Linked DNA regions of Homo sapiens. The protein of the gene in region 1 interacts with the protein of each later gene in a biochemical or structural test. Each region holds a gene or a part of one and is shown on either strand. Other genes may lie near its edges.

Region 1 (7,627 bases):
TCCTGTATCATCAGTAAAAAAAAATTTACTCTGGAAATATGAGCTTTAAAAGTCATAACTGAATTCTTGTTCCTAGTGAAAAGACATCCACCTATCCAAGTTTGCTATTATGACATACAGATATTCTTTTTTTTTTTTTTTTTTTTTTTTTAGAAAGAAGGTTGAGACAAGAGCACAACTTTTAATACAAAATAAAAAGAATTAAGTGGCATCTGGGACAAAAAATTAGGGAACTAAAATAATTCAAAGGAAAGAGAAAAAGTCTTGGTCATGTTTGCCAAGCTTTGAATATTAGACCTTGCTTTTTTCCCAGAGATTGTCAGTGCACGCTGGTTGTGCAATATCAACCAGGATTAGGCAGGTGTGGGAGCCACAGAAGCCACTCCACCACACTTTTAAGTCATTTCATTAGAGTCGCCTCAGAAGTCCTGGTGAGACAATCCTAGGAGTCCTCTTTGGCTGTCTTGCTTGATATTCTCAAGCAAGTCCATTCTGCTAGACGCCTGCATCTGGGTACTCCTCCCTTTTTAACTCCAGTCCCCACAGGGTCATTTAAGAAAATGTATGCATGTTTCTGATTCATAACTATATTATGATGATTATTCTTATAAACCCTTTTGACGTCTAAAAGCCTTAGAGCCACTCAACAGTCCTGTTTGGGCCAGTCTCCTGGAATATGAGAAAAGATGAAGAATGGGAGTGTTATGGAGGGCATACGCCCCTCTGATCATCACCACAAAGAGTGGAGCCCTTCATGGTCCCAGCTGAAAGCCTGGAGAGGCTGCGCGCGGTGGCTCACGCCTGTAATCCCAACGCTTTGAGAGGCCAAGGCAGGTGGATCACTTGAGCGCAGGAATTCAAGACCAGCCTGGGCAACATGGCAAAACCCCATCTCTACAAAAAGTACAAAAATTAACCGGGCGTGGTGGTGGGTGCCTGTAGTCCCAGATACTCCGGAGGCTGACGCAGGAGAATCGCTTGAACCTGGGAGGCGCAGGTTGCAGTGAGCCGACATCTCGCCACTGCACTCCAGCCTGGGGGACAGAATGAGACTCCAACTCAAAAAAAGAAAAAAAGAAAAAGAAAGCCTGGGGATATTTACCAGGACCCTTCCTCCTTTTCAGGCCCTAGATTCTAAGATCCTGCTTTGCAGATCTGAAGTGGGACCCAGGAATCTTTAACAAGCTCTAAGCCTGCCGAGTGCCTGCGATTGCAGGCACGCGCCGCCACGCCTGACTGGTTTTGGTGGAGACGGGGTTTCGCTGTGTTGGCCGGGTCTCCAGCCCCTAACCGCGAGTGATCCGCCAGCCTTGGCCTCCCGAGGTGCCGGGATTGCAGACATACAGATATTCTTTTACTTGTTCTGGAGAAAATAGAATTTTAGAAATTCATAACAGCCATCTTTTTTAAAGTATCTGTTTATCTTGTAAATATACATATTCCTGTACATATTGTTTGAATTCCATTACAGACATTATTATGAATGGTTCATATATATTTTGATAATGACTTATATAATATCAAATCCACTTATAAACATAGTATTTGGGCAGAAATTGTCATGATGAATTAGATGATCTCTAAAGTTTTTTCTAGCTTTAATATGAGGTGATTCTAAGTAGCAGGTACAATGGACAATATGTGTGTGTGTGTATATATATATATATATATATATATATATTTAAAATGGACTCTATAGTTAGAAGCTATTTTTGCAGTTAATAAAAATACTCCATTGCAAATCAATTACTGCACTCATTTTCATGATGCAAACTGTAAGGTTTATTAGTAATAATAATAACCTCCATGGAAACAAAATAGAAAAAAAAAAACCAATTGAAAGAAAATTTTCACTGAATTTAAGAAATATCAACAAACTCTGTGTTCTTTTCTTTTAAAAACATTATTTCTGTTTCATTAAATTTCTAAAGTAACCTTTCAAAACAAACATTATTTCTACTTTAAAAATTAAAAACCACCAACAAACCACCGCCACAACAACATACTACTAAGGAAAAGCCTCAAAACATGCCTTAGCGCCGGATGAATACAGCAGTCCTCACTTATCTGAGGTTTTTCTTTCTGTGATTACAGTTACCCTTGGTCAACCTTGGTCCAAAAATATTAGATGAAAAATTCCAGAGATAAACAATTTGCAAGTTTTAGATTTGCAGTGTACTGAGTAGCTTGATGAAATCTCACACTATCCTGCTCTCTCTGGCCTGGAACATGAAACATCTCTTTGTATACCATATCCACACCATATGCATTACTGTCTTGGTTATCAGATTGACTATTGCAGTGCTTGTGTTCAAGTAACCCTTATTTACTTAATAAGGTCCCAAAGCGCAAGTGTTGTGATGGTAGCATATTGTTATAAAGGTTCTATTTTATTATTAGTGATTATGGTTAACCTCTGACTGTGTCTAATTTATAAATTAAACTTTATCACAGGTATGTATGTTCAGGAAAACAACATAGTATACACACAAGGTTCAGTTTTATCTATGGTTTTAGGCATCCAGTGGGGGTCCTGGAACATATCCCCCTTGGATAAGGGGCAACTACCGCACTCCTTTTCCAACTTGGGAGCCAGATCTTCAAACATAAAGTGCAAGGACTCATCATTTATTCTCTTTAGTTCTCCCTTCACTCAAAGGAAATTTAAAATTGCAAAATGAGTTCTCCATTCATGGTCTTATTTTAACAGTCTAGAATATCAGGCTCAAAATTGCGTGTTTACTCTGAATCTGTATTAGTGAAGATGACTGGTGGAAATCACTGAAAGAGAGAAGGATACGCTGTATTTAATTGTCTTTATAGTAGATAATTCAAAACCTTATGTACTTTGAACTATTTTACATTAACACAATAATACATAAACAGTGAATCACCATTCTTTCCCCTAAGGTAAAATTTTTAAAATTATATTATCAAAAGGACTACTTGTGGACTCACAGTTTGGATCTCTGTGCCTGGTGTCCTTGTTGAGTGGGTGAGAATCCCTGTCTACTGAACTCGTCTTGAACTTCAATAGGTTTAAGCTCAGATTTAAAATCTCCAGATATTGATGACCCTTGCAGAAATAGCTCTGAACAAGTAATAGGATTGACAGAATTAGCAAGGCCAGTTCATTAATAATAAGGCAAAACCAAACAAAGAGTAGTCAGTTTATATTTTACAGAACACATTGAATAGATGAGAGACAGAGGTCATTATTAGTACTATTTATCGCAATAACATGAGTTGTATTCATTAGTCCCATAATCATCTACTGAGCACCTACTTTGTGTGAAACAAGCAGTAGCTAGGCACTAGGGTACAAAGACAAATAAACCCTATTTCCTATATCGTGAGGCTTGCAGTCTAGTGGGGGAGACAGGTAAGTAAAAAGATAATCACAATGAAGTGCTATGATTACTACAACATTGGGAGGAATAAGAGAGATACTATGATTTTCATCTTCTCTTACTACAGGCTTTTAATACAATTTTTTCAGATGGGCTGTCTTTACAGATCTACTTGCTTTCTGGATTCTAGTTTTATTGGCATTTTCTCCTTTTCACTTCTCCTTATTGTTTCTGGTTTTTACCATTAAAAATTCCTTTCCTGCTGTTTTTTAATGGAGTTTTGAGATGTAGGGGAAGTAGATGCATGTGTTTAATCTTCCATCTTTTCCTAACATCTTTCATCCTCACAGCCAAATTCTCATCTAACTTTGCCAAAGTAGGAGATTTAATTTACTCTAAGCTTAAAACTGGAAATTTTTAATTAGCAAGAGGACAAAATTTTTAATATTAATGGCAATTAAAATGAACACATTTAGATTTTTAAATTATAAGGTTTAGTCATATGTAGCTTCACCCAGAAACTTTAAGTGGATCTTAATGCAATTTAAACAGTGATAGTGTCTAAATAAATTTTAATAGTTATGTTTTATTATACTAAATTAATTTGTCATTTATTTACTCTTTGTTAGTAAGAGGGAAACCTGTCACATTTCAGAACTTTGTTTGCTTATATATTTTTTATTGTAGAATTTGATTTCAAGAATAGAGAAGAGTACATAAAATTTACAATATTTAAGAGAGTCACAACCATAAATATTTTCAAAGAGATTCTTCCAGAAATCAAAGTATTTTCTAAATTAACTTTCATTTTCATCCTTAAATCAAATTTTTACCTCCCATTTAGCAGGTTTCATGTTCCAGTTTGTGTGCTATACATATGCTTTTCAACAGAGTTTCTCAGGGCAATTCACTTTCAGTTTTTATGAACTGAGTGTTTTCTCTCTAGCTAAAGAATCTAGAATGTAGTCAGGTGCAATACAAATGTAACTTAAAAGATGCCTTCTGATGGCAAATGTGAAGAAATTTAATATTTCAGTTTGATGATAAAAAATGTCATAGTGGTTTTAACATTCAAAAAATATGTTTTAAGTTACTGTCAAATATAGCTTGGTACTCATATGTTCAAATATGTAATATAGGCACAAGCATAGAGACTTAACGGTAAAAAAAAAATTACTATAGCAATTCCTATCCTACCCCCACCTTCCCAACACAGATATTTCCATAATTTGCTTTTTATTTTGTGCTATCTCTGGCACCTGTTCACTGGAGGGATTTGGGGTCATTACGGACATCACACACTTGCCTACAATTTGGACAAGCATATCTGATCTAATTGCTTCAATTATGAATTGAGTAATTTTTGTAGATCATGAAAACTTGTCAAGAGTCAAAGCCCAAAAGGTCATTATTTCACACATATGATTCTTGATTGATGTAAAAACATTTAAAAGTATTAGAATTATATGTTGATATAGTGTTTAGATTTTTATATATGATTTTACATCCAATTTTAAGAATACTAAATACTTTACAAGGCACAAACATTATAAACCAGCTGAAAATAATCTTAGAAAACAGAAATAAAAATATTAATAATTAGGACACTTTCTGAGTGCTCATCATGCCAGGTCAGGTACTAATTGTTTACTTCGCATAATCTTTACAACAATCCCCTGAGGTAGGTCAAGTATAATTTTATAGATGAGGAGACAGGCTTGGATAAGTTTTATAACTTATCTAACTGATGCATTTATTCCCCAATATTAGTGGAATGCCTACTGTGTGAAAGCACTCTTCTGTGGACAAGGTACTTCTATATACAGCAGCAAGAAAACAGTTTTTATGTTTCAAATGTTGACATTATGTCCATGCAGACCCCAGCGTTCGAATTCAGGTATGACTTAATTCCATGGTCCACACTGTTAACCAGTAAAGTCTCCTGTTTAGGGCAGATTAAATTACCTGCTCTAAAAAGATGAAATTACAGAATTTTCTTTAAATCCTAAACAGCCTTCAGTGTAGATTCTTCTGGTTCCAAGGCTGTCATATATATCTACTTGCTCTTTTTTTTTTTCTTTTTGAGCGTGAGAAAGTTAATTGTAAGGACAGAATTGAAAGAAAACCATGAATTCCTTAGGAGTTCAAGGACAGCTATACACTCTAGTCCTAGGAGAATGGAATGTCAGCTCAAAATCTTGGAGGATACAATGCTGGAGTAAACACCTTAGCAGCTGGGAGGGGTCTGTTGATCTTCCCAGTAGGGCTCAAATACCAAGATTGCGGCTTTCCATCCCACTAACCGCATGCACTGCCTGCCCCCAACCCTGCTCCTCCCGCCGTGGCTGATCTTCTGTCACTAGTTAATACTCTTCCTAAGGCCTTCCATATCACCTTTACTTTACAGCCTGTGCTTCCTCAATATATATTTTCTTATTTGTTCTGTTTTCCATAACCCCCCTCATGGCCTTGACTCTACTCAAGACACCTATCTATAGAAGTTTTTTAAGCCTCCCATCTATTGATAACAGCTTGGCTATTTCCATGTTTCCAAATGAGTATTCTGGGAGAATATGATTTGTTTAGCCGAAACCATTTTGCTTCATTATGCCATTGGCATAATTTGGCCAAGGTCACACCCTTGGTCTAATCAGCTTTAGCCAGATGGCAAGGTTATGTGATCTACATAGGGCTCCCTTTCAGTAGGGGCTGGGGAACTTTTAGTAATAAAGGGTGTAAATGAAGCAGGCGCTGTGGCAGACATCGTTTTTACTAAAAATAAACCTTTCCTTACTTTGAACTTGAAAACATGTCCCTCAGTCTTCAAATAGCAGAATTAAATTTAGAGCTGGAAGGGCATGTTTGGAAACAAGACCATACTGCTGAAAAGACTTACCAGAATGAGATAGTCCTGTAATTTCTTCTGTTTAGGATTTTATTTCCCTTTTCCAATATGCGTTCTACTCTTTCTTGTCTGAATTTTATTCTTCTTGGTTGAGAAGAGGAAAGCAAGGTAAGAATTCCAGTTTCTCTTTCTCTTAGCAATTTATTACTCATGTAAAGAGGAGACATATCTTCCTTCATTGTCTTCTTACTATATGCATAATTTTAAATCTTTTCAAACATATTTTTGAAACCTATTTTACTTTGGATTATAGTATTCTTAATTTTATTTTATCATATTTGATTGCATACCCTTTTTTCTACCTTTTTATAGTATCCTTTAACAAATCATATGGGCATTCACTGAGATGTTACACCATCAGCCACTTTATCTTTCTCCTTTCCTAAAAATATGTGGAGATAGTTATTGTCAGAATTTTATTATCTCCTGATGTTATTTATTTTAGAGAGTCTTTGGCAAAAGAATATATAACTTTTTTTTTTAAGAGAAGGGGTCTCATTATGTTACCCAGGCTGGCCTTGAACTGCTGGGGTCAAGTAACTCTCCTGCCTCAGCCTCCCAAGTGGCTGGGATTACAGGCACCTGCCTTCTGTAATGCTTATTGCCTTCTATATATCTGTAGCACTTATTCTTCTGTAGTCAGCCTTCCTTTTCTTTTATTTTCGTAGCTTAAGTCCCTTAGTTGTTTCCTTTTGAAGGTTTACAACACATCCTTGTTACCGGCTGGTTATTTTTTTGCTGGACAGAATTAACTCTGGAGTAGCAATTTAATGTTTTATCCTCCATCTTTTGAAAAATATTGTCAAAAGATGGAGGATAGAACATTATCCTCCATCGTCAAGAAATTTTTATTTGTACTGAAGGAAGCTTCCATGATAGTCCATTTGGTTTCACTAGATACAAAGGAATACCTGAGGCTGGGCAATTTATAAAGAAAAGAGGTTTATTTGGCTCATGGTTCTGCAAACTGCACAAGAAGCATGGCATCAGTAACTGCTTCTGGTGAGGCCTCAGGAAGCTTTTATTAATGTCAGAAGGCAAAGGGGAGCTTGTGTGTCACATGGTGAAAGTGGGGCAAGAGAGACAGGAGGGAGGTCCCAGACTTTTTAACAACCAGATCTCATGTGAACTCCTTACTGCTGGGAGGGCACCAAGCCATTCAGGAGGGATCTGCTCCCATGACCTAAACACCTCCCAGTAAGGCCCCACCTCCAACTTTGGGGATCATATTTCTTTCTTTTTCTTTTCTTTTCTTTCTTTCTTTCTTTTTCTTTCTTTCTTTTTTTTTTTTTTTTTTTGACAGACTCTTGCTCTGTCATCTAGGGTGGAGTGCAGTGGTGCAATCCCAGCTCACTGCAAACTCTGCCTCCCA
Region 2 (7,364 bases), on another chromosome or scaffold:
GTTCCCGCTTTCAATGAGATCAGCTGGGCTCTGCAGTGCCCTGCACATAAGGAGAACCCAACACTTGTCAGCGGCTGTTATCACGTATGGTTTGCCTCTAAGCTCCCCTCCTGTGTCTTCCCGTGTTGGATCCGCAACGCCAAGTACAGGTGCCTGGCATGTAGTAGGAGCTCAACAAATACTGTCAAATAATCGGGTGAATGAATCAACTCCCAGCATCCCGGCCAGAGCCTGACACTGTCTGGGGACCTGACATCAGAGGAATGGCTGTCCATGTTGGGGAGGAGTGTCCCCAGGTCAATCTGGCACACACCTGCTGAGGTCAAGGAAGCCCCGAGCTCACCCTCCTGCTCTGCAAAGCCCAGGCTGGAGGCGGAGAAGAGAGGTCTCAGCAGGACAAAATTCGCACTCCCGGGCCTTGGCACGTGCCACTTCCAACCTCTCTCATGCTCATGCACACAATGTCATGTTCAAGACTTTACCCAACCCTCCCCGACCCCTCCCCTGACCTTCTCCCGAGTGCCCTCACTTCCTTAAACTATAGCTCTTGCCAGGTTAATTGGAGATATGTGTTTAGGGGTTTTCTTCCCCACCAGACTGGGCTAACACTGAGTCTTGATTCTTTATGCAGCCCTTACCCTTACTTTGTGCTGGGGATGAGGGGTGCAGCAGTGACCAGGACAGAAATGCCAAGGGAGAGACCGCTGAGCAGGATATCTTCCGCCCACAAGGTGGCAGCACGAGGAGGAGCCTGCCACTCCGGAAGTGGGGAAGGGCAGTCCAGGCAAGGGAACTGTAAAGTTAAAGCCCCAGAGGTGGAAATGGACTTGGCTTGTTCTAGTGACAGAAGGAAGACCAGAGAGGCTGGAGACTAAGAGGAAGGGGAAGAATGGAAATTGCTGAGTTAGAGAGATAGGCAGGCACCAGTCTGTGCGGGTCTCATGGGCCACAGGAAGTGGGGTGGATTTTATCCTAAGTGCAGGGGCAGTCGTTGGGGGTGGGCTTTGATGGAGATCTATAGAAGCTCAACCCACAGGAACGGCAGGGCGCGCGGAGAGGAGGCTGGTGCAGGCATGCAGGCGAGAGGTGATTGAGACTCGGGCCAGGGTTTAGCAGGGCACAGTGGACGGATCAAGGATGTACTTCAGAGACAGATACGCCAGAGATGCTGTATGACAGCAGGGGTATACATCGGGGTGGGGGCCAGGTGAGGAAAGAGAGGAATCGAGGACAGCTCCTACATTTTGGGAAAATGGAGGATCCACGCCTGAGATGGGGAGGCGGGAGAGGAGCAGGTTGGACAGGGGCTGGGTAGTGGGAGCAAGAGCTCAGTGTGGGCCGCGCTAAGTTTGCAACATCTATTAGTCATCCAGTGGCGATGCCAAGTAATGATGTGTCTGTGGGGCTGCCAGCTGAGCAGAGATGGGGCTCTACTCCACTTTGCACTCCTAGCATCCTGGTCAGGGCCTGGAGCAGTCTAGGCACAGAACAAAGGTTTGTTGAGAGAAGGAAGGCCTGCCTGTGAAGGCAAGTTTGCAATCGACCTTCCTAGGACCAACAGAGGCAACACCGTCCCCAAAACCAGTCTTCCCCAGGCCTAGGGCTCACACCAACCTCTTCTGAACCTGGAGCTTCCTGAAGTCACTTTTCCTGGGCCCAGGAATCAATGAAGGGAGACCAGCCCCCCTCAAAAGACCCCAGCTTCAGGCCTGGCAGGGGGTGTGGATTGGGCTGTGGGTGGGAGGGACTGAGTTTTTAGGTGGGGATGGGAAGGTAAGGCCACCTCTTGGAACAGGATGGCTGGCATTTCAGAACTCACACACAGACTCTGGTCCAACAAGTTCATCAGGTAGAATTTTTAAAATAGAGGCTATTCCCGAAAACCCTGGCTGACATGTGGCTGTGCTCGCAGTCCAGAGGAGTCAGGACAGGGCTGTGGGGAGAGGAGGTTAGAGGCTTCATGTTGTGGCATCTGGCCTTGTTCCACCCCAAAACCCATGTGTTCCAAGAGCTCATTCACTCATTCATTCACTCATCAAACACTGATGCCTTTGAGTCGGGTCCTGTGGTGGGCACTGGGAGCAAAGGATGAACTAGGGGCACCAGTGACAGTGGGGGACAGTATGTCCTCTTTAAATATATATATCAGCATTTCCAACATCAGGATGCATTTTCCAATTGATGCTGACATGTAACGAGGCTTCACTCCCCACTGTCGAAACTTGCAACAATGCATCTTGCAACTGAAAATGGAAAACAGGGCCTAGAAGGTGGTAAGTGTAGAATTGGAGATGTACATAGTTGGGGTCAGGGAGTCAGGGAAGACTACCTGGAGGAGGTGAGTCTTAGCGGATGAGTAGGAGTTGTCCACGGAGGAAGGTACACAGAAGGGCTTCCAGGCCCAGGAAACAGCAGAGGCACAGAAGTGAGAATGGGTGGGTGAGTTGGTGGGGAAACTCCAGGTGCAGAGGATGGTAGCGAAACAAACTGGAGCATTCAAGGTCCAAGTCCTCCAAGATCTTGACTTGCAGATTAAGGAGTTTGTTCACCTAATCTGCTTTGGGCAGAGTGTGGTGAGTCCTAGAGACCCCTCTAGGTCTCTCACTCTCAGTAGCCCCAGAAGGCCTGGAGAGCTGCTTCTGGGTGCCAAGCAGGCAGTGACTCCATCAGATCTAGATTTGGGAAAAGCATCCCTGGTCAGGGCCTGCATCAGGGCAGTGGCTGGCCATGAGGACCCTGAGAAGTAGACAGATTCACGGAGATTCTCAGGAGGCCAGACAGGAGACTATGGTGACAAATTAGATTAGAGAAGGGGAGAGAATGAAGGAGCAGTTGGGGAAAAGAAAACTGAGGCTCTGACATGGGTATATGGGTGGCGAGTGACTCACCACCCACTGAGAGGAGAACCTCACAAGCTCTGACATGCTCTGGTTCCAGGTTCTGTTGGGGCTGATCCAAGATGGTAGCCTAGAGGTGCACAGAGATGGGGGCCTTGCTTTGCAAAAGGATGCTGGCTGCTGGCCCACAGCATGGTAATGAGATTTGAGCTTTATGTGCCCAGGGCTGGGAGGAGGGTCCTGTCACTTTGAAAGCAAAGAGAGGCTCTAGAGAGGGGCATGTTGAGATAGGAATGCTGCCTTGAGACACCTGGCTTTCCCCACTCTGGGTGGGCTCTCAGCAGGGTGGGTTTCCCCTGCCAGGCAGCACTGAAACCTCTGTGCGCTTCCGGGCTGGGAGAGTTTTTACCGTAACTACATGTGGAACCATCCTGAAGGAACATCTGGATGGGATGGGGTACAGGGAAGGGAGCTGCCAAGAGTGCTGGCCAGGGACCTGGGTCTATGAGCTGGTTGGGGGGTGGGGTTGGGTGCAGGGTACTTGATCCTGAGTGGGCCTTCTGCGGCCAGGATTGGTTCTAGAGTAGGAGGGGTGGGATCAGGGATGGGGGAAGCCTGTAACTGCGCTGCAGTTGTCAGGTCCCAGGTTCTGGGTGACCTACTAAGGATTCTGGGTCCAGTGTGGGTCCCAGGTTAGACGTCCTAGTCCTGAGTCCGTGTCCACAGTTCTGGGTGTTGAGTCTAGGACAGTGATCTGGAGTTGACAGTCCAATCTAGGTCTGAGTCCTGACCCCAAGTCTAGAGTTCAGGGTCATGGTAGTAGCCTAGGGTCAGAATCAAGGTTGGGGTCAGTAACCAGGATGGGATCGAGGTCATGGTCCAAAATCTGGATCTGGGGACCTGTTGGGGGTCTGAGGTGAGTGTCGCAGTCTGGGTATGGCGTTGGAGACCCAGGGCTGTGATCTGAGGTCATGGTTAGAGTCTGAGGTGGTGGGCCAAGGTTTGAGTCTGGGGTCCTGTTTGGAGTCTGGTGTCAGGTCGTGGACTGCGTCCAAGGTCAGGGAGTCCGGGGTTATAGCCAGGGTCTGAGATGAAAGTCCCAGGATGGTGTTCAGAGGTCTGAATCTGTGTCTTGGTGAGCGTCCAGGTTCCCTGTGATCACGTTTGGTGTCAGGGCTGCGGCCCGACTGGGGAGCCTGGGATCCAGAGATGTGACCCGAGGTTGTGGTCAGAGAATGGGTCTCGGGTCGTCTTCCGTGCCGGGTCCCTGTCGTGTTCCAGGCCCGGGTCTCCGTCCAGCATCGAGGGCCGAGGTCACGGCCAGGGTCTGAGCCCGCGGTCGCAGGTCTGGTTCGGGGTCAGATTCCGCGCGGCCTCCAGGGGGCGCCGTCGCCCGCCCGGCTCGGCCCCTCGCGGGCTCGCTGGCGTTGTGCGCGGCAGGCGGGGCCGGAGGCGGCGGCGGCTCCGGGGCGCGGGCGCGCGGGCGGCGGCGGCGGCGGCGCCCCGACTGCAGTCCCGGCGGGAGCGGAGCGCGAGCCGGGGCCGGGCCCGAGCCGGCGCCATGGGGCGGCGCCGCCTGTGAGCGGCGGCGAGCGGAGCCGCGGGCGCCGAGCAGGGCCAGGCGGGAGGCGTCGGCGCCCGAGGCCGAGCGAGCCGCGGCCGGGCCGGGCCGAGCGCCGAGCGAGCAGGAGCGGCGGCGGCGGCGGCGGCGGCGGGAGGAGGCAGCGCCGCCGCCAAGATGGCGGACCTGGAGGCGGTGCTGGCCGACGTGAGCTACCTGATGGCCATGGAGAAGAGCAAGGCCACGCCGGCCGCGCGCGCCAGCAAGAAGATCCTGCTGCCCGAGCCCAGGTGAGGAGAAGCTGCCCGCGGCCCCGGCCCGACCCCGCGGGCGCCCCGGCCGCGGCCCCGAGACCCTGGCCCCATGCTCGACCCCGCGACCTGGACCCCCGGGGCCGGCTCTCGCAACCCCCTGTCGGCCCCCCAGCCCGGAGCAGCCCGGCCTTGGCGCCTGCGGGTCCAGACCCTAAGCCCCAGACCCTGGGCGCCTGAGCCCGGAGCGCCCCAACTCCGGAGCTCCTCTGCCCCATCGGTCCCCGGACCCAGTCGGGTCCCCCTGGCCGCCCTGCTGCTTCCTTATCGTGCTCCACCGGCCCCCCGAAGTCGCTGTCAGCCCCTGGCTCCCGCCTTCTCCCACGGGGGCCCGGCGCGCCCCTTCATCCTTCTCGGAGCAGCCCTTGGTCCCTGTGGGGTCCCCTCCCCTCCGCTGGCCACCATTTACCTCGCCTGACGATGTCACCCACCCTTTTGCTGTCCCTGCTCACGGCACTCGCTTTAGGGTTTCCACTACCCCCACCCGTCTCTCCTCCAGTCTACACTTGTGTGAGGTGTTGGGGGACAGCCAGTCTTCCGGACTCTTCTCCCACCCTCTGGTGGGGTCGCTGTCCTGGAGTTGGGCTCGAGAGTGCTTTCAGGGCGGCGTGGTGAGCAGGACCTAGGGTGCTGCGGGCACCCTCCCCCTCGGACCGCGCTCAGGTCGGGGAAACATCCCCTGTGCCCTCTCCCCTACATTTCTCCTCTGGCAGGCCCTGCATATGGTGCCCCGTGGGTGCTGTTGACCAGGGGCCCTCCCAGCACACCTGCAATGGCTGGACCTTAGCTGCCGCCTCTGTAAGACAACTGACATCACACCTGGTATCAAAGTTTAGACTGTTCAGGATGTAGGTGCAAAAGTACACAGGATGTGGACGATTGCTGCGGTTTGTCCAGCATTTTATGGCTGATAGAGTATCTCTCCACTGTGTGAGCCTCTCAGCAGCGCATGGGGTGGCGAGGACAGGTGTGGTTTTGTCCCTGTGGAACAGATGGGGAAACTGAAGCTCCAGAGGTGAGTGGCCTGCCCCGAGTCACACAGGTAGTCCCAGGTGGCACCTGGCCAACAGATCAGGGCTTCAGACTTCTGGTTCTACATTTCATCAGCTACCCTGGCCTGTGCCAGGGAGCAGACGTGCCCGCCACGATTCTTTGTGTCGTGTGGCAACTCCTTGTGCATGCCTGAGAGTTGGCCTCCTCCTGGTGCCCCAGCGGGCTGGGGATGGGGCCTGTCCACACTGCCGTGGTCTTATCTTGTGACTCTGGGTAAGTCTCTTCCCTCACTGGGCCTCGGTCTTCTCATCTGTGAAATGTGGATGGCGTGAAATAAGAGCTGTGACTCTGCGGTGTCCCTCAGCCTTTGAAGCAGCCGTCTAAGCTCTGGCTGACGCTGCAGGGGTGCCCCATGCCCATGGCCCTCACCGCCCCCCTGTGCCATGCCCTGCTCACTGGGTGTTTGGATTGACTGAACGTCAGGCCTGGGAGAGGAAAATTGGTCTGCATTTTGAAAAGGCCGTTAGGGCCTTTTTTTTTCTAAGACATTTGCAATCAGATTTCTCAAAACAGGAACCAGACTGACTGTCAGCTGGGGGCTGTCCAGGGAGCAGTGACGGTTAGTACAGAAATGAGTTCAGAAATGACAAACCCACGAGGGAGGAAACGGGGGAGTCAGCCTCTAGGGCTCAAAACGGCTCTCCTTGGTGGCTGCAGCCTCGAGACCCTCCTGCAGGATGGAGTTCTGCAACTGTGAGGCGGGGCCTTTTCTGGAACTGTCTGCGTTCGGGTAATCTCCCCCCAGAATGCATTGCTTCTGATGGGGCGCCGCCTTGGCTCTGCAGGTGTCAGAACCCTGAGAAACGAGATGGTCTTCTTTTCCTGTCCCCTTTCCCATCCATGGTAGTGATGGCGGTGATAGCAATAATGATAGGAATTATTACTGACTTACCTATTTTGATATCTGTCATCTCAGTTCTTCCAGCAACCAACCTGTGAAGCTGGCAAGGCCATGCCTTGCATGTAGTAGTTGCTCAAGAAATACCAGGACTGTGTGGCACCCCCATGCAGTCCTGAGCAGAAACAAGGTTGGATAGGATTCTAGGAGGACAGCAGGAGGCCGAGCCAGGCAGCCCAGGTTTTCACATTGGGTCACCATCAGCAGCATGGCCTTCCGCAAATCGCCCACATCTGTGAAACGGACTGGAGGTGCGAGCGCCGAATGTCAGTGCGCTAAGGCCTGGGAAGGGCTACTGGCCACCCCTACATGGGGGTCCAGGCCTGGGGCATTAGGGAGCAGGCCACCCTTTGCATAACGCCTTGCCTTGCACACCCAGTGGGGCAGAGCACGCCGCCCCCCGCCCCCCGCCGCCCCAGTGGTGATCCTGACCATGTTTCATGTTTGCCTGACACTTTTCCACTTGCAGAGTGCTTTTTACTCTGTTTTGTCCTTTTGACAACTGTGAGAGGCAGGCCCAGCAGTTAGGATTCTCCCCTTTAGCAGTTGAAGTTATTGAGGCTCAGGGAGGGGAGGAGTCGTGTCCTCGTCACAGAAGAAAGCTGGAATGGGGCCTCGGGTTTCTGGACCACACAGGCCAGTGCTGTTTCTTTGCTGTGCTTTATCCCCTCCACCCACCCCTGCACACCACTGTTCTCGCCTCT

Evidence for each region.
Region 2: of the proteins of PDC (region 1) and GRK2, one has a biochemical effect on the other in vitro, tested with the Homo sapiens proteins (one study listed by BioGRID).

Annotation. Positions count from the first base shown.
Region 1 is NC_000001.11:186,458,101-186,465,727, forward strand, and holds the start of PDC (phosducin), read right to left. Parts: upstream 3,015-7,627; 5' UTR 2,959-3,014; intron 1-2,958. UniProt on the Homo sapiens protein: May participate in the regulation of visual phototransduction or in the integration of photoreceptor metabolism. Inhibits the transcriptional activation activity of the cone-rod homeobox CRX.
Region 2 is NC_000011.10:67,262,125-67,269,488, forward strand, and holds the start of GRK2 (beta-adrenergic receptor kinase 1), read left to right. Parts: upstream 1-4,348; 5' UTR 4,349-4,575; coding exon 4,576-4,688; intron 4,689-5,071; exon of another isoform or gene 5,072-5,701; coding exon of another isoform or gene 5,702-5,724; intron 5,725-7,364. UniProt on the Homo sapiens protein: Specifically phosphorylates the agonist-occupied form of the beta-adrenergic and closely related receptors, probably inducing a desensitization of them. Key regulator of LPAR1 signaling.